4 separate regions of the Homo sapiens genome follow, and regions 2, 3 and 4 are each linked to region 1. The links come from fine-mapping of genetic effects on gene expression. A gene starts in region 1. Each other region holds a variant in brackets. All regions are shown on one strand. Distances are between the middles of the regions. Region 1 holds the start of ACADSB (acyl-CoA dehydrogenase short/branched chain). Region 2 has its middle 26 kb from the start of C10orf120. Region 3 has its middle 55 kb from the start of ACADSB. Region 4 overlaps ACADSB (acyl-CoA dehydrogenase short/branched chain).

The links.
Region 2: its variant is fine-mapped to the expression of ACADSB in cerebellar hemisphere (GTEx, PIP 0.97).
Region 3: its variant is fine-mapped to the expression of ACADSB in whole blood (INTERVAL, PIP above 0.99).
Region 4: its variant is fine-mapped to the expression of ACADSB in skeletal muscle (FUSION, PIP 0.95).

The regions. Positions count from the first base shown.
Region 1 is chr10:123,006,861-123,011,898 of GRCh38, forward strand. ACADSB (acyl-CoA dehydrogenase short/branched chain) reads left to right here and starts at 2,146. Exons shown (of 11, transcript NM_001609.4): 1 at 2,146-2,211. The coding sequence starts at 2,170. It overlaps IKZF5 (IKAROS family zinc finger 5), which reads right to left and starts at 1,935. Exons shown (of 5, transcript NM_001372123.1): 1 at 1,834-1,935; 2 at 166-316. RefSeq lists enhancers at 1,212-1,441, 1,722-2,051.
Region 2 is chr10:122,723,087-122,728,124 of GRCh38, forward strand. No RefSeq gene overlaps it. Among named protein-coding and RNA genes, the nearest start is that of C10orf120, 26 kb to the left of the region's middle. The variant G/A (reference allele first, on the strand shown) is at 2,799.
Region 3 is chr10:123,061,903-123,066,940 of GRCh38, forward strand. No RefSeq gene overlaps it. Among named protein-coding and RNA genes, the nearest start is that of ACADSB, 55 kb to the left of the region's middle. The variant C/T (reference allele first, on the strand shown) is at 2,922.
Region 4 is chr10:123,037,764-123,042,801 of GRCh38, forward strand. ACADSB (acyl-CoA dehydrogenase short/branched chain) reads left to right here. Exons shown (of 11, transcript NM_001609.4): 3 at 1-84; 4 at 2,703-2,909; 5 at 3,446-3,616. Among named protein-coding and RNA genes, the nearest start is that of ACADSB, 31 kb to the left of the region's middle. The variant TA/T (reference allele first, on the strand shown) is at 2,420.

The sequences.
Region 1 (5,038 bases):
TCCAAAATAATTGGAACACAATTCCTGATTTCAGAACTGTCAAAAACTCTTGAAGGCAAAAAAAGAAATTATGAGGCTCTGAGAAATCAGAAATCAAAACATAAAAATAAAACATAAGTAAAACCATGTTGAAAGAAATCCAGAAGAGAAATTATACAATCTAACCTTTTCACCCCAAATCTGTTCCTCCTTTTTCTTGCCACTCCAACATTGATGAAATGTAGAGTAATTGAAATTTACTTCGGAGATACAGCAAGGGACTCCAAAAGGCCATGGAGAGAGAATTTCAACTAAAATTGAAAAGCCATACAGAGGTCTGCATAAAAAACAAACAGCACACCACAAATCAAAACCTTTAAGATAAAAACTTAATTAGCATCTACAGGTTGAATGAGCTAGTAACTTATGCCAATCTTATCATTACATTAGCTGAAAAGAAAACGAACTGACAGATTAATCAAAGAACAAAGCAGTAGCTTCACTTCAGCAAAAGCTCCATAGGATCACCAAAGAATAACTGGTGTGACTACCGTTTTCTCACTGGTGGATTAGTTTTTGGCAAGATTTTTAATGTCTAAATTTAAGTTAAACTTCAGTTTAAAGAAATTAAGATTAACTTCATTTAGTCACAGCACACTTCCAAAACGGTCAAGCTTAGTACTGCTGAACAGCTGTAGTTGCATAAAAACAACGCATAGTCCTAAGTAGGGAAATGGGAAAGGGCTTTAAATACAAAAACAAAAAAAACATGCACACCCGATAAGGGCACATCTGAATCCCATCCTTCTTATCCTATCATAACACAAAACAGCTACGGTTTTCTGGGAAACATCCTGGACCGCTAGGGGAAAATAACACCAGACATTTCAATTCACTGTAACGAACTCTCATCAATAATAATAACCTTTAGCTGTTGTGACAACACGACATAAATCAAAATTAAATTGAATTTTTAAAATTGTTAGTTCCTACGTTTAAAAAAAAGTTGTTTTAAATACATTCTGTTCTTTCAAAACTGAATTTCCTCAGATCACACAATTTAAGACGCCTTTATGTCTTCTTCCGCTTGTCACACGTCTTTCGGGTTCTGACCAGCACATCAAGGGGACTCTAAGCAGGCCACGTGGTTAGTGTTTGCTAGAACTTGTTTAGCTTCAGATCCAGTCATCGAGCATGCTAGGCTTGGCTACTCGCGCTCCACACAGTTTATCCAAAGATCTAAACCCCGAATGAACCTGAATAGTTATTTGCTACAATGTCTTTCTCAAATCTCACATGTTCCTAAAATAAGGGTGCCCATGCAGTAGAGACGGATCCGGGCAGGATCATTAGATAAAATACGAAGGCTTTAAACGTCCTTCTCCCAACAATCAGCCTGGGACCGGCGTCGGGGCAGCAGCCTCACCAAGATTCGGAGCGACATCCTCGCCAGGATTCGAAACACCTAGGAGACCCGCGCCCGGCTGACTCCCAGCCCCTGGGACCCCGTGAAGACGCAAACCTCGGGACGCCTCCCGCAGAACCACCTGTCAGAGCCAAGCAACAGTCCCCGCCCCGGAGCCTCCGAGCTCCTGCTCGAAGGCAATGACAGCAGGAGACCCCGCTCCCTCGGGGTTCTCGCGGCCATAGGCGCCGCAGTCCACTGCCCTCCGGCTAAAGAGGTCCCGGGCCATCACCTGCCCGCCTACCGACCACGCCCGACCCTCCACTGAACTGAGTCTCCGTCCGGATCAGCCGGCCCGCCACGAACCCAGCTCCAGTCTCCGGCCGCTCCTTCTTATCCGCCCTGTCCTGCCGCGTCGCCGCCGTCCGAGCCGGCAGCCTGCTACTTACCTCCTGACAACTGCATGGAGTAAACCACACCGCCTTGTTAAATGCCGTCGCCGCCGCCGCCGTCTTCGTCACCGTCACAGTCGCCGCCGCCATCTTTGTTGTGTCTCCGACTCCCTTCCCGCCCCCCTGCCTTGCTCAAGTCTCGCGTGAGCAGGATGGAGGGCGAAAGCGAGGAGGGGCCTGTTTGTCTCTCTTGGGGTTCCGTAGGCAGCAGGGGGCAGGGATTAAGGGGGGGTGTGTGCGGGGCGGGTACTGAGTGGGCGGGGCCTTGCTCGGGTAACTCCCAGGGGCTGGCTAGAGACCCAGAGGCGCAGAGCGGAGAGGCCTGCGGCGAGGATGGAGGGCCTGGCAGTGCGGTTGCTGCGCGGCAGCAGGCTGGTGAGTGCGTTCGAGGCTGGCGTCCTGGGGGCCCAGGGCGACCTTGGCCCCTGGAATCGCAGCTGGCAGAGCCTTCTAACGGGCCTCGGGGCGCCGGCCTGAGCCCCGCTCCACGTCCTGGGTCCCCAGACTCTTTACCCGCGGGCAGTCTATGACCCCGACCCCCTTCAGGCCTCTGGTGGAGGCAGCTGGTGGCAAGGGGGTCGGGGCTGTCTAGAAGCTGCTTTGGCGGAGCAAGTACCTTGAGTGGAGTCGGAGGGTCGCGTCCGCAAGATGTCCTTTGCAGGCCGTTGCGTCCTGAGAGCCACCGAGTCTGGATCTCTGGATCTCTGGATGCATTTTGCACAGATGTCACCTCCCTGATGCCCTAACGCACCTTTCCCGAGTGATTACATTTCACACCCCCTCCCCCAAAAAAGATAGTTAAAATATAGGCCCAGTCTCATTCTGAGCAGGTGTCTCCCTGTCCTTCCTTCCGCGGCCCCGCTCAAAGGTAGTAAGGGACTTCGGAGTTGTTCGGGCTTCCCGGCCAGGGACAGAGTTCCCTCTGCCCCTTATCTCATGTCTGGAGCCTGGGTATCTTCCGTGGATAGACTCACCGCCGCCCAGGGGAGCCGGAGCCGGTGCCGGTCCCTCTTCCATGAACTTAAGCTGAAACCAGCCTCTTGTTGTGCTTAATTCTTATCTGTGCACCCACACAAACTGTTAACAGCCCCTGTGTTAACATCCTATGCTCTTCACCCCTTGGACCTATTATATAGCATGCTTTTCAGAACATACACATTTGGATACACTTGTATTTGTCAGTACACTTCACTGGGAATTTTCCCACTGCTTACGTGTGCTTTTAATGTTTCCTTTGCATTTGCTTTAATGAGTTAGGCTTTCCAACTGCTGCTTCAGTCTTATGCCCAGAGGCAGAACTCTGACCCTTTTTCTTATTAGAGATAATTAATGTTATTTGACTGTTTTACAGGCCTGAAGTGCAATAAAAAACAGTAAGTGATTATTGTTTAATACTGTTTATAATTGTTGGTTAATAACTTAGCAAAGAAAATTTCTTTGGTTTTACAATTTGACTCTGTTTTAGAGCCAAAATTTATTGACCGCATACTCTGTGGTAGGCACGTTCTCGTTCTACCTGAGTCATCTCAATTCTCACAACCATCTTAACAAGTAGTTTAATCTTGCAGATGCTGAAAAAGAATAATAGCTTGCCCACAGATAGAAAGGGATAGAGCTGGTGGTATTCGAACTCTGGTCTGATTCTAAACTTAACCTTCATATACTACTGTCTCCCCGTCCTTAGAGATATCAAAAACCTATTTTGTTTGAACTTTTGGTTTATTGTGGCTTATAGTCCTTTATAGTTTTTGAAGCTCTTTTACATAAATTAGCTAAATTGATTGAACATCGACTGTAGCATAGTGGTTAAGAACGTAGGTTCTGTAGCTAGGCTGCTTGGATCTGAACCCAGGCCCTCTCACTTCCTAGTGGTATAACCTTGGACAGGTTATGCTTTGGGTCTCAGTTTCCTGGTCTGTAAATGGAGAGAATAATTGTGCGTATTCCAAAATTGTTGTGAAAATTAAATGAGCTCATATGTTCATGTAAGGCACTTAGAATAGTGCTCGGAATGTAGTCAGCTCTCGGTAAATATCAGCTCTTACTGCCATGCACGAAGCATTGTGTGCTATGCCAGATGTAATAATGAATAAAATACTCTACCTCCAAGAAGTTTATCTTTTAGAGGAAAGGTTAGAACTATGTGCAACTAACCCCATGTCATGTAGGTGTGGAACAAATCCTAAGGGGCTACAGTCTGCGTGCAGATTCAGAAGATAGAAATGACTAGGACCATTGGGGAAGTGATAGGCTCTTTGGAAGCTGGGTTAGAGTTTAGGAGGGGAAAGGAGTGGTCAGAAAACTGCAACAAAAGGGGACTGAGGCCACTTTAGGGAATTGGGGGTTGATCCTTTTGGATTGTTAGGAGCCATTGAAGGTCAAGAGCTTTGGAGTTTCCTCATGCCACAGTGTAGGTAGATGGCTGTGGACACAAGTGGCATGGAGTGGGGAGAAATGCAAGGTAGGGCTAATTTTGGTTTCTATCCAGAGGCAAATGGAAAGCTAGCATTTACTCACTTATTGTAGACCAGGGACAGCATTTTACACCCACTACCCTATTTACTCTTCCTGTAAACCTCTGAAGTAGGTATATTAGTGGCTTCATCTTGCAAATGAGGAACTCGGAGGCAATAACCAGTGTTCCCAAGTCACATAACAATCAGATTGCAATGCTGACCTTCAGCCTACCCCTGCCTTCTCAGAAGGTCTCTCCTAGTCCTGCAGATGGATTAGAACTGTCCTGCCCATTTGGTCTAAGCAACCCAATTAGTGGAGAATTGGACCTTGTAGTTAACCTGTGGTTCCAAAGCATTTTAATGTAGCTTGATATCTTTTTTTTTTTTTTTTTGAGACGGAGTCTTACTCTGTCGCCCAGGTTGGAGTGCTGTGGTGCGATCTCAGTTCACTGTAACCTATGCCACCCGGATTCGAGCGATTCTCCTGCCTCAGCCTCCCGAGTAACTGGGATTACAGGCGCCTGCCACCTTGCCTGGCTAATTTTTGTAGTTTTAGTACAGATGGGGTTTCACCATCTTGGTCAGCAAGATGGAAATGGTCTCAAACTCCTAACTTCATGATCCACCCGCCATGGCCTCCCAAAATGCTGGGATTACAGGCGTGAGCCACCACACCAGGCCGCTTGATGTCTTTTAAGAGATGATTTTTTTTTTTTTTAGACAAGTTTTCACTCTCTTGCCCAGGC
Region 2 (5,038 bases), 280 kb before region 1:
AATGAACCTCGGTCATCTCTGCCCCGCTCTCCCAGGCTCCTTCCCTTACCTGAAATGTATTGCTACTCTTGGGAAGTGGAATCAGTCTATGATTTAATTTCTTTGGAATCAAGTTCCCAGAGGATTTTAGACAGACGGAAGGACCCAAAATAGACAATTCTCAATCTGCAATGAGTTTAATGATTTCTGGGAGCCGGAAAGAAAACCACCCCCAAATTCAGTGTTTCTCTTAAGGCTACACCCTGATAACTACTAATCTATTGGGAACAGCAGAGAAAGGGTCCCTTGAAGCAAACATCAGCCTCATTCTGGTCCCAGCTGTCCCGAATCCCTTCTCCCTCACATCACTGTGAAAATCCAATTCCCAATGGAAAAAGGGTCCAAATGAGGACTGCTATTACACTGGGCACTTTCATAATCCAGTTCCAACAATATTCAGCTCTCCTCTTCCCTGCCTTATTCTGCTTTCTTTGAAATTTGCAAGCTTACCACCAAATACCAGAGCATTTCCCAGGCTGAGGGCACATGCTGCTCTGCTCTGGGCCCATTACTTAGCACAGTGGTTGGCAGAGTAGAGAACGCTCCATCACTAGTTTGAAAAAATGAACAAAACACAATGAGCGAGAACATCACACCGTTAGCTGATCTCCACTTGTGAGATCCTTTTCAAAATAACAACAACAGGATTATGAGGCTTTTTCCCCCGAGTGGCTGCAAATCTAGGGATATTTGAGAGGCTCAGGTAATCTTACAGACACCATTGGCAAGTCTCAGTTATCAGTGGGGCCATTTTCTTGCCAGCTTCCTGGTGCCTCCTTCATCTTTGCCCCTTTTCCAACCCTTTTGTGCCCACCTGTACTGTCACTGCACCTCTCCCCCAAGATGCGGACATTGCCCCAGAGTTTATGGAGGGGGTGCTCTTCAGCTTCCAGGAACTCATGGATTAGTGATACGATATGACCCAATAGGCTTTTCTAGGCTCCTGGTGCTGATTGCACAAGAGTCTTACAGACAATGGGGCCAGTGAGACCATCTGGAAACAACCACCCAGGGACACCACTGCAGTTCCATGCAGGTCACTTTGATACTAGAAGAGATTTGTGGAACTGGCAGACTATTGGAGTGCAGTTGATATTAGGGTGATTCACATGAAAAGTGAGGACAAAGGGGGAACTTGTTGACCACCAGAGAGAGAAAGACAATTTCTGATAACGCAATTGTTCCCTGGCACAGAATTTATCTAATCAACACAATCCTAGTGAAATCATTAAAAAGTCTCTATAAACCCCATTATGATCAATTTACAATCCATTCAGCTGTGTGCACTGCTCTGCCTGGACCCCACACTGACCACAACCCCTCCTTTTCTCACCCCCACAGACCCCACCCAGGCTCTCAGCCCTGCCGCTGCCTCCTCAGACAGGGACTCCCAGCCCTGGCACCAAGGTCAGCTGGAAATTCCAGGTGTCAGATCACAGCTGGATCTGCAGAACTGCCCTGTGATCCCAAGCACCTCTGGCCAAATGCTCAGCAGAAAGCACACCGCCTAGCCCTGTTGCAAGGCCTGCAGCCCTGAGAGCCACTCTGTACACATGCACACTCACACCCACCACTCACATTCGTTCACATACACACACTCACACAAATACACCTCTCACTCACACCCACCACTCACATTCATTCACATACACACACACCATTCACTCACACTCACACCCACCACTCACATTCATTCACATACACACACACCACTCACTCACACTCACACCCACCACTCACATTCATTCACGCACACACCACTCACACTCACACTCACCACTCACATTCATTCACATACACACACACCACACACACCACTCACATTCATTCACATACACACACCACTCACTCACACACCCACCACTCACACACTCACCACTCTCATTCACATACACACACCACACACTCACACCACTCATATTCATTCATATACACACACACCACTCACACTCACACCCACCACTCACTTTCATTCACATACACACCATTCACACACACTCACACCTACAACTCACATTCATTCACACACACCACTCACACTCACACCTACCACTCACATTTATTCACACATGCACCACTCACACTCACCATTCACATTCATTCACATTCACACACACCACTCACACACTCACCACTCACATTCATTCACATACACACACACCACTCACACTCACACCCATCACTCACATTCATTCACATACACACCATTCACACACACTCGCACCTACCACTCACATTCATTCACACACCCACCACTCACACTCACACTCACCACTCACATTCATTCACATACACACACACCACTCACACACTCACCACTCACATTCATTCACATACACACACACCACTCACATTCGCACCCACCACTCACATTCATTCACACACACAGCACTCACACTCACACCTACCACTCACATTCACACACACCACTCACACACTCACCACTCACATTCATTCACATACACACACCACTCACTCACACTCACACCCACCACTCACATTCATTCACATACACATACACCATTCACACACACTCACACACATCACTCACATTTATTCGCACGCACACACACACACTGTCTTTCATACCACTCACATTCATTCACATACACACACACCCATCACACTCACCAGTCACATTCATTCACATACACACTTACACTCACCACTCACACACACTCACCACTCACATTCATTCACATACACTCTCACACATTTATTCACAATGTCTCACACACACACACACACTCACCACATAC[G/A]ACCAACCTGTTTCATTCACTCCGCCTCCTTGATCCTATCCCAAAGCCCTGCCCTCCTCAGCCCCTGCCCTCAGTGCTGCCCTCTCCTGACTGAGCTACCAGTTATCTCCTTGCCTAGTCTTAAATCTTCCCTAATTCCTGGCTCCTTATCTCTTATTGTAAATATTCCCCTGAACACTACAAAACAGACCAAACGCTCCCTCAGACCACCTGCCCAGCACCCGACACCACCTCCCTACCTGAGGCCACCCTGGACATTCCGCAGGGTGCACTGCAGCAGCCTGGGAGGGAGAGTGACTTCAGCCCTGGGGGATACATGGGCAGTGTGTCTGCATCTCAGCTTACTCCAGATTGAGAAGAGGTTGACTTTCTACATCAAAGACCAGGAGTTGGGTTTCAGTCACCCTGCCAAGCCCCTCATGGAAATTCCGCTTGCTTCACATCCAAGATTTCTAGCGGAGTTGGTCCTGACTTCTTATTCTCACCCCTTACTTCCTAACCCAGTCACCCTGGTTTCACTTCAACTCCTTTCTGAAGCTGCTCTTTTTTTTTGAGACTGAGTCTTGCTCTGTCACCCAGGCTGGAGTGCAGTGGTGCGATCTCGGCTCACTGTAAGTTCTGCCTCCCAGGTTCACGTCATTCTCCTGCCTCAGCCTCCCGAGTAGCTGGGACTACATGCGCCCACCACCACGCCTGGCTAATTTTTTTGTATTTTTAGTGGAGATGGGGTTTCACCATGTTAGCCAGGATGGTCTCAATTTCCTGACCTCGTGATCCGCCTGTCTCGGCCTCCCAAAGTGCTGGGATTACAGGTGTGAGCCATCACACCCAGCCTGAAGCTGCTCTTTTTAAGACACAATGGTACTGGCCTTTGATTGCCAATCCAGTGGCATCAGCAGCCTCTGTCTTGTCAGCTCCCCCACAGCAGGCCACACTGACAGCTGTCCCTGTGCCCAGACCCTCACTCTCCCTTGGCCCTGTGGCAGTGACAATGGTCAGATGAAAGCTCTTGTATCTAACCAGAAAGAGTTGGAAACCAGTTTTTAAAAGTGGTTATGTTTATGCTGTGTTTATGTGCACTAGCCAAATACCTCCTCTCTCACCAAAGTTACCTCTAAAGCACAAATCCAAAAATGTAAAATTAATTAATTTTACTTAAATAACCCCCCAAAAGAAAAAAATACATAATAAAAATAAAAACAGGAAAAAACACAAAAAGGGAAAAATGCCTGAAAAAGGACAAACCCATGCGATATTAGAACACATCAAATGAACTAAAAAGCATGGTTGAATTTATGTGTAAATTGTAGCTTACTTAAAGCAAATGCCATGATTAAGTACAGATAGCTAAAGATGTGTAATAAAGTATACAGGCTGACATAAAATTGGAAAAACTGGTACAAACATATACTTGATTAAAAGGAAGAGTCATAAAACCAACTACACACCAAGGCAAGATCTTAAGAAGAAGTGATTGCAGGACATGGGTTTCCAAGCTCAGCTGCACAACAGAATCCCGTGGACTGTCGACCATTCAGATTCCCAGGCCCCCTCTGCTGCAGCTGTGAGCCAGTGGGTTTGGGGTGGGGCCCGTGAGGCCACTGTCTTAGGCCACACTCAGGATCCCTGCTGGGTTGTAACGTGTCTGATGCATCTCAGTTTGCTACAGGAAAAATGTGGGAGGATCCAGAGGAAGGCTGTGGAACCCATGCTCTGAGAGAAGCACTGTCCAAGGTACACCTGCGACTCAGCAAGAAGGTGAGTCACAGCCAGACATTCCCCTTGGCCTTGAGGAGGAGGGGCCGCGGGCAGGTGGGACCTGAAGGGCAGAGGGTGTGACTGTCCCCAGGAATGGACAGTCCCCACCCAGCCAGGCAAGTCACACATCTCCACAAAGAATGACATCCCAGTTTTATTTCTGCTTAACAAGACAAGGATGCCCTCAGATCTTTGTTTAACTTCATGGTTCTTATACATTAAAGACTGACTTTGGCCGGGCATCATGGCTCACATCTGTAATCCCAACACTTTGGTAGGCCGAGGCTGGCGAATCACTTGAGGTCAGGAGTTCAAGACCAGCCTGGCCAACATGGTGAAACCCCATCTCTACTAAAAATACAAGAAAAAAAAAATTTGCCTGGTGTGGTGGTGCGTGCTTATAATCCCAGCTACTTGAGAGTCTCAGGAAGGAAAATCACTTGAACCCCGGAAGGAGAGGTTGCAATGAGCCGAGATTGCGC
Region 3 (5,038 bases), 55 kb after region 1:
ATTAAAACAACCTACTAGGCTACTGATATCTTTTACTTTTGTGCATCATTCTCCCTTTAACTGATTTTTCTACTTTTCTCAAATAGCCACAGTGAAATCGGCAGCTCTATTCAGCCTCACGGGAGAGTAGACTCTGACATAGAGAGCACAGAAAAGAGATCTGAAACCTATGAAGGTTTGACCTCCCTAGGTAAATAGCACTGTTCAGGTTTAAATGCTTGTCCTAAGCAAAGCAATGCATGGCTTGCTTTGCCAAGCAGAACTTCACAGAGAGGGCTTTTTGCTTTCAGGTATAAATTGGGCCATTTGCACTGGCTTGGGATTGGGATCTTGTCTTTAGTTGTGATTTGATTTTCTATGATTTGACCCAGAGTATTCAAATGTAATATTTCCTTGAACATGAAGCATTTGCATTAAGGAAAAAGGAAAAATTCAAAACTTCTACTCAAGTCAAAGGACACAGGTCCTTTGTTTAAATTGGATGGACAAAGTATGGCCCATGGGCCAAATCCAAGCCACTGCCTATTTTCGTTATGGCCTACAAGCTAAGAATGTGTTTTTATGTTTTAAATGTTATATAGTTATGTACAGTATCCTCAATTTTGCCACTTTCCCACAAAGCCTAAAATGTTTACTCTCTAGCACCTTTAGGAAAAAGTTTTCCAACCCCTGATTAAATGATTGCCTCTAAATCAAATTTTGACTGAAAAGGTTGGTCAGTCTGTCTTGATGTCATACCGAAAGAAGAGAAAGAGAGAAGACTTCCCCTAGGAACTTGAGCCATTATTCTCTCTTGATTTTCTTTGTAGACTTTCTAGCCCTATGGGCTCCCTGCTACAACCTACAAACATGATTGTCTTCCCTTACCCGCAGTTTCAGTTACCTGCATCAACTGTGATCTGAAAATATTAAACAAAACTCCAGAAACAAACAACATACAAGTTTTAAATTGCACGTCGTTCTGAGTAGCATGATGAAATCTTGCACAATTCTGCTCCGTCCCAATAAGAACGTGAATCATCCCTTTGTCCAGCGTATCCATGTTGTCTGCTCTACCCCCTTCTTGGTCATCAACACTGTCTGCTCTTGACATCCCGCCATCTTCATTGTCATGCTTGGTGATCTAGGATCACACAAAGCAGAGGCTCCATCTTCTGAGACGTTGTCAGAAGGTCGATAGTGGCTGAATCACTAGTAGGCACATCACAGTGCCTACGCCATTCACACAACTTCATCCTATCCCATACACATTTTACCATCTCACACCATCACAAGAAGGGTGAGTATGACAATGAGACAATGAGAAAGAGAGAGACCACGTTCATATAACTTTTCTCTTTCTCTTTAGAACCAAAACAATGTTCTCAAAAGCCATCTTTTTACCTTTAATTGGTGGCCTATTATATTTGTCCCAATTTATATAGTTTCAGACACCCCTCATCTTCCTACAGGCTCTGCTCCTTTGACAAAGCACCTCCTCTTTTTCACTGACTCTTCGTTGGCTTCTTTGGCCTTAAATGGAAATTTTTTTATCAAGACTCTGCTATTGTGCCTCTTCATTCTCTATACAATTGGTTCTAAACCTCACTGTGCTTTTAGAATAACTCCAAGAGACCTCAAAGTGCACACTGTGGAATACTATTCCCAGAGTGTTCCAGTCATTGGCTATAGTGTTTATTTTTAGATCTATCTAGCAGGCTTTGGAAATTTATATTTATTTATTTATTTACTTTTGAGATGGAGTCTCACTCTGTCGCCCAGGCTGGAGTGCAGTGGTGCGATCTCGACTCACTGCAACCCCCACCTCCCAGGTTCAAGCAATTCTCCTGCCTCAGCCTCCTGAGTAGCTGGGATTACAGGTGCCCACCACCACGCCTGGCTAATTTTTGTATTTTTAGTAGAGATGGAGTTTCACCATGTTGGTCAGGCTGGTCTCGAACTCCTGACCTCATGATCCATCCGCCTCAGCCTCCCAAAGTGCTGGGATTACAGGCGTGAGCCACCGCACCTGGCTGGCTTTGGAAATTTATGTCTAAAATGCAGGTGAAGGATGAGAGTAGGAGACAGAGATCAGGAAGTCTTACGTAAGTCTGGTAGTATAAAGGTCAGATGAAGTACTCAGGAAGGACTGGTCATCTCCTGGGCTTTCTGCCCCCAGATCACTTGAGATGTCTGTAGAAAGGCACATTTCCTGACCTATGAGTCTTATCTTTGGGGCTGGGGCCTAGGAATCTGCATGTTTAGTAACCTGCCAAGGGATTTTCATCGCACACTAAGACTTGAGTAGTTGCTCAAAATGATTCCATCCCCAAAGTCCACGTTCCTTTCCAACTTCTCCCCAGCACCCCAGTCCAGCAGGACCAACGAGGTAAACCCCAAGCTCCCTAGAGACCCACCTGCTTAGTGAAGAAGCAGAAGGGGAGCAGGCGAGCCCCTTCCCTCCATCCTCCTGAGGTCAGAGGTCCTTGCGGATCCCCATTCACTCTCCCAGTGTGAGGCAGAGAAGCCAGGCACCAACTGTTCTCCGAGTTCGGTGGAACCAAAAGCAATTTAGGGCAATGTGTTCACAGTTCTCCACCCCAAAATAGGAGCCTCCATGGGGCTTGCTTTAATGAGATTTTACTTTATTAGTTCAAGAGTTAATGAAGAAACTGCTGATAAGATAAATCACCTTAGGTGCGGTGTTTTGAAATCTAACCATTTCTCTTAGAAATTGATTTTTTTTCCTTTTGGATATGCAAACTAATGATGAAGTCATAGTAGGGATGTAAGTTTTGGTGCCTTTGGAGGGTCAGGACGTCTGAAGGGAGAACATCTGGCTGAGTGGACAGCTCTTCGAGCCTTACCTTATTTTACATTCTGTCTATAACAGAAACCCATCGCTGTAAAATGTACATACAGTTCCTTTACGCATTAATACT[C/T]CATTGTACCAACCCTATTGATTTTTCCAAGTAGACAAAGGCTAAGGATATGTTTATTGATTGTTGCTCAGTGCATTTTAAGTGTATTTTGTAATAAAGAGCATTTTGAGACTGAAACAAACTTTCCCTTAACCAATGGGCAAGTTGAAATTTTAATTAAATGTTACTAAATATTTTTTGTAAAAAATAAGACTATTCACAATTCTACATTCAATGTCCATCAGCTAATGTAGAGAATTACAATCACGTGCCATGCATGTTACAACTAGACCTATGGAGTTAATATAATGTAGGAGTAATGGGAATTACTAATATTGCAAAATGTTGCTCAGGCACCATGTGAAACTGTTGGAAAGACAAGCCAACTCATGGAACTTCTGGAACTGACCATTGGAACACAAAAAGACAGAAGGAGGGAAGAGAAGCCAAACCCTGAAGAGCTTTGGTGGAATTACCTAATTTGGGGTAAAATAGAAAGAACCTTCTCTTTCCCCAGCCCCTTTCTGGAGCAGCCTCCAAAAAGGCTGAGAGTAGGTGCTGAGAAAACATATCTGTCAGACGGATGGCCAGATAGGAAGCCCTGTTTGGTTAGTGCTTTTTCTTTAAAGAGTAGCTGCATAATAATGATTTCTCTTTTCGTTTACTCATTGTCTTTATTCGAGTGGGGGCAGCTAAGATTTGCTTGGGGACATTAAAACATCATTTGGAAAATCAACCTTTGGTATTTGCCAGCTCATATTAGTGGATTTGCAGTTTGATAAACCACTTGGATAGAGGGGGTGCCATCCTTGTCTCAGGTACCTCACGTGGCTTGAAACGGTGTCCACACTGGAAGAAGACATGTCCTCCATCAAGGGCATCCATGAAAATTAATGAGTGGTCCAAAACAATTCGTAAGGAGGGTGAGTCGGTTTAACTCCAAATGTGGTTTCAGAGTGGAGTGTGGCACCTGGGTCCCAGTCACCAGTGGGCTGCCACCACTGGTTCCACCTCCAAAGTAATTTTTAAATCTGTCCAGTCTTTATTCTCCACTAACACCATAGTCTGATCTAAGATATGACTTCTCACTCAGAACAGCACAATAAGCCTCTCAACTGGCTTCCAGCTTCCACTATTCCCACTGTTCGATCCACTTTCTATCTAACAGCCTGAGACATTCTTTCAAATGTAAGCTGGATTATACTCCTCTTCCATCATTTCTCTAGAAATGTGCTGTTCAATACAATGGCCACCAGCCAGCCATGTGTGTCTATTTAAGTTATTTTTTGGTCTTTTGCTATTTTATTCGGAGGATTATTGCATATATATTCATAATGAGAGTCATCTATTCTTCTTCTTTATGCTTTTAATCAGATGTTGGTTTTGTATTGTATTTCTTTATAAAACAATTTGAGAAATTATCTATATTTTTATGATTTCAAATACCTATCTAAATTTAAATGAGTTAAAATTTTTAAAAATGAACAATCCTTTCCTTGGTTATACTAGCCATGTTTCAAGTGCTCATTAGTCACATGTGGCCAGTGGCGACCATGTTGGGCAGCACAGACATCTAGCATTTTTGTTTTACCTGAAAGTTCTGTCCATCTGTACTGCTCTTGAAGATGCAGCAGTTTCTCCCTCAAAGTAGTAGGTGGTGCCCAGAGCTCCTGACCAAGCAAGCTGTATGGTCTCTAAGAACTTTGGGCTTTGAAGGAGTATGGCAAGCTTAATTTGGGGAGCTACTACTTTTTTTTCCCTTTTCTCTTCTCCCTATTCAAGCGGGCTCCAACGATTCTTGCCTCCATTGAGGTTGGTGGCAGCACCTCCTGACTTTTGTCTAAAAGTCTAAATCCATAGAGAAGGACAAGGTTTGAAAGGAAAGGAGGAAATTAAGTCCCATGTGAAGAATAAGGCCTGAGGAGAGAAGAATTTTCCCCAAATTAAAGAGAAATTTCCCTAGGTTGGGGAAAGAGAGAGAGAGATGATCAGGTCCCATAAGTAGCCTAGACTAGCACCCCAAGGAAGTGCATCAGAGGGCAAGAGGGAATGGCATGGGGGACACCAGGAAGCTGGGTCCTGGGCAGAGCCCTCCAGCCTCGCGAAAGATGTTGGACCTCAGGCACATCCCAAAGAAA
Region 4 (5,038 bases), 31 kb after region 1:
GAACAAATTGCACCTTTGGTTTCAACCATGGATGAAAATTCGAAAATGGAGAAATCAGTAATACAAGGATTATTTCAACAAGGGGTACATTTCATAATTCTTCCACTTTCAAGCTTCTATAATTAAATTCAGGGACTGTAATGATAGCATAATGAACCCTGCATTTCCCAGTCAAAATTATCTGTTTTCTTTTTTTGGTTGAAATCCTACTTGATATTTATGTACTTAAAAGTTCTTAAAAATGGAATTAACATTTTTTAATTTGAAATACTGTATATTTTAAGGAAAAGTTTGGAAGTAAGATGGTAATTTATTTGTATCTTTAGACCAGCGGTTCTCAAATGGGGGCAGTTTTGCCCTCCAGGGGACATTGGGCAACGTCTAGGGACATCTTTGGTTGCCACAGCTAAGGCGTGCTACTGGCATCTAGTGGGATAGAGACAAGGGATGCCACTCAACATCCTGTAGTGCACAGGACAACTGCCACAACAAAGAATTATCCAACCCAATGCCACCATGAAGAAACCCTACTTTAGATAGTGAAACTTCATAGCATAGTTTATATTCTACCTGAAGCTCTATATAAGTGATAAACTTAGAAGCAGAGGTGATACATGAATTCCACATAAACCGGGCAACAGATTCCCATCTTCTCAAGTCACATAGCTCTTTAATGGAAATACAACGTATGAAATAGATACAAGTAAAACCGCTCTCACTGTGAGTAGGGGGAGGGGCTATTAGCATAGGGGCTTCTAGAAGAACATTTTAAAAATCACTGCACGCATCATTTCTCACTTCCGCAGAGGTATAAAATATATTTTTTTTAATTTTTAATACTAAAGATGTCCCAGAACAAGTGGCTGCTATTCAGAGCCATTGGCCTAAATCTTGTCTGCCATCTGGTTTGAAAAATAACCATTGCCACTTAGCTAGATAGTTTTATTTATTTCTGTTTTAAAGCAACCAGCTTTTTTATACCGTGTGTAGTAGTGATTCTTCCATCTTTCTTTTAGCAGTCAAACTCTTAGGAAACTGGAATCTTATGTGGAACCATAGTGGTCAAACAGGAGGCCGATGTGGAGAACAGATGGACTCTGTGAGTCCATTTCTCAGCCAGGTTTTATTTCTATTGCTTGCAGACCCTCTAGGCTTCTGGGAGCAGTCTCACGGTTTCACAGTGTGAGATCTCCCCCGCGGTGGTCGTTCCTGCAGCGGGGCTGTCTGCAGAGTGATGCATTGCCTGCACCCTGCTACTCATCTCCACAAACCACTCCTGTGCAGATGCAGCCTCACCTGCCTCCTCACTCCCATTGTCCTGGGTTTTTGGCATAATGGCTTGCAAAAACACTATTTCCACGTTGGGAGAGATTAGTGACTTTTTTAGAGAAGCAATGTCTCTGATATCTGTTCGAGTCATTGTAATGAGGTTTCCGGAGTGCCCTCCTCAGTTCTCAGGCAAACCCAGATCCTTCCGTTCTTCCTCGTTTCTGGTTTTCTCACCATTCAGTCGCTCGCATTTCTGGTTCCCTTTTCCTGTTGTAGCCCAAAATGTAACAGCCACAGCCCTGACTGCAGCATAGTGTGACTCCAGGAATGTCTAGAGAGAGACTAAGAGAATTATCCTTCTGTTAGCAGCTGTGGGTTTTGAATTACACATGCACACATTCTCTTTGTGAAATTGAGAGTACTATGTGAGTTTCAGTAACGATGGAACTGGGTCGTTGGAAAGGCTTGGCTGGCACTGGTCGTGTTTACCAGGCCCTCGTGCTTTGGCTAGTGTGGCTCTAGCAAACACCACCACATGTTCTCTGCTAACCATCCTGAACTTATGAAGTGGCGTAAAAGGAATGGTCATTCAATTATTAACTTGGCTGAAAAAGTCAAGGTGAAAGAGCCTGACTAGAAGAAACTTTGCCAAATGAAACTATAGACATCCCATTGAGGAGTAGGTTATTTTCTTCTGTTTCCTTATTACATTGAAATCAGCATAAGGTGGGTAGGGCATGTTGAAAAATCAAAACCCCACCTACCTGCTTTAAGCAGGCAACAACAGTTCTTAGCAAGAAAGGTCATCTAAGTATATAAGATATTTTCTCATTCCATTAAGCTACCCTTTAAAGCATTTTACCTCTCATTATTTTTTGAATCCCAAAAGGAAGCAAATGATAGCATATAATTTTATCCTTTTCAAATATACAGTTTCTGTTACAGATTTTTTTGTTACTTATGGCAAAATTGCTATACCAAATTAAAATAAAATATAAATACAAAATTTTAAAATTAAGAATAATTATGGTGGCTGGGTACAGTCGCTCACGCCTGTAATCCCAACACTTTGAGAGGTTGAGGTGGGTGGATCACCTGAGGTCAGGGGTTCGAGACCAGACTGGCCAACATGGCGAAACCCCATCTCTAC[TA/T]AAAAAAAAAAAAAAAAATTAGCTGGGTGTGATGGTGGGCACCTGTAATCCCAGTGACTTGGGAGGCTGAGGCAGGAGAATTGCTTGAACCCAGGAGGTGGAGGTTGCAGTGAGCTGAGATTGCGCCATTGCACTCCAGCCTGGGAGACGGAGCAAGACTGTCTCAAAAAAAAAATAATAATAATAAATATGGTTACAGTTTATTTTTTAACTTGTTCATGCAAGAAATTTCCCCATATAAAAATAGCTTTCTTAATCTATGTTGCCTTGTTTTTTCTTTAGTTGATGGGTATTGAAGTTGACCCAGAATATGGAGGCACAGGAGCTTCATTTTTATCCACTGTGCTCGTGATAGAGGAATTAGCCAAAGTTGATGCATCTGTGGCTGTCTTTTGTGAGATCCAGAACACATTAATTAACACACTGATTAGAAAACATGGAACAGAAGAACAAAAGGCCACCTATTTGCCTCAGCTCACTACAGAAAAAGTGAGTTGAGATGAATTGTTGATCTAATGGATCTAATCTTTAGTAAGTTTACAATATTTTCAGGAAAAAAGTAGCTGCAATGTCGACTTTACTATCCAAGACCACAATGCGGTATCATTAATTCAAGCAATGCTTGATAAATTAATGCTGCTGGAAAAGTACACTCTACCTCTTATTTGCCAGTTGGAAATTTAGAAAATAATCATCAGATAATAAAATTATTTCTTTTTGTCCTGATTATATTTTCTAATACGTTTGTTGATGGTTTCATTTACGTTGTGATGTCTTTCTGCTGTAATTATTCAAATCAATTTCAATGAGTATGTGTTCGTGAGTCTTTAAATTTGTCTTGGACAAATAGGGTATATTTTTTGGAAAATAATACTTTCAGAATACCATTGCTATTTTCATAAATATAGGCTTTTTAAAAAAGCAGCTAAAGATTTGATTTACAAATGTCCATTTTTCCATAAGTATTTGTTATACAGAGTATAAATACAGTTATTAATTTGGACATTTTTTTCTCCCATATGTAGGTAGGAAGTTTCTGCCTTTCAGAGGCTGGAGCAGGTAGTGACTCATTTGCTTTGAAGACCAGAGCTGATAAAGAGGGAGATTATTATGTCCTCAATGGATCAAAGATGTGGATCAGCAGTGCTGAGCACGCAGGGCTCTTTCTGGTGATGGCAAATGTAGACCCTACCATTGTAAGTTTGAAAACGAAATTTCTTTCTTTTTCCAAACCCCTTCTTTTCTCTTTCTTTATCTTTTCCTCCTTCTGTTTCCTTTTTAGGACTTCATCTTGAACTCTTTAGTCTTCTCAGTACTGAAAATGTCAGACTTGAGCTGGCATTTTTTCACTTCGTTAATCTCCTAAAGTAAATATTGTTGACAAAATTATTAATTAGAATTGGCCCACCATATCTGTGGATTCAACCAACTCTGGATTGAAAATATTTGATTAAAAAAAAATTCTGCAAAGTTCCAAAAAGTAAAACTTGAATTTGCTTTGTGCCAACTACCATATTGAATTCACGTGAATAAAGTGACATGCATGTATTATGTTAGGTATCAGATAATCTAGAGATGATTTAGAGTCTACCGGAGCATGTGCATAGGTTATATGCAAATATTACACCATTTTATGTAAGGTACTTGAGCACTGTCAGATTTTGGTATCCATGGGGGTCCTGGAACCACTCCGCCACAGATATGGAGGGATGACTGTTTGTGGAGGACCAACTGTTACTTAGCTCCTAATGGGTTATGTAGGAAGCTAATCTTTTTTCTTTTCTTTTTTTTTTTTTTTTTAATATGGAGTCTCGCTGTATCTCCTAGGCTGGAGTGCAGTGGTGTGATCTCACCTCACTGCAACCTCCTCCTCCTGAGTTCAAGCGATTCTCCTGCCTCAGCCTCCCAAGTATATGAGACTACAGGTGTGCACCACCACGCACAGCTAATTTTTGCATTTTTTGTAGAGACAGAGTTTCGCCATGTTGGCCAGGCTGGTCTCAAACTCCTGACGTCGGATGATCTGCCTGCCTCGGCCTCCCAAATTGCTGGGATTATAGGCGTGAACCACTGCACCTGGCCCTAATCTTTAATTTTGTTGAATTTCCAATTTCTGTTTAGTAATGAAGAATTTAAGTACCTATTTAGTACATTTATTTTTAAGAATATTTTATTCAGTTGGAAAATAGACATATAGCAAAATAATAAATACATTTTTTCACCAGTAAATACAGTATTTTCACTAATGTAACAATTGAATTAAATTGTTAAAACTTTTTTTTTTTTTTTTTTTTGAGACGGAGTTTCGCTCTAGTTGCCTAGACTGGAGTGCAAGGCTGTGATCCCAGCTCACTGCAACCTCCGCCTTCTGGGTTCAAGCAATTCTCCTGCTTCAGCCTCCTGACGGGTGCCTGCCACCACACCCAGCTAATTTTTGTATTTTTAGTAGAGACGTTTTTTCACCATGTTGGCCAGGCTGGTTTCAAACCCCTGACCTCAGGTAATCCGCCCGACTCAGCCTCCGAAAGTGCTGGGATTACAGGCATGAGCCACCGCACCTGGCCTAAAACTTTATATAGTAAAATTAAATTGAGAACATGACATTCTCATGATTATAT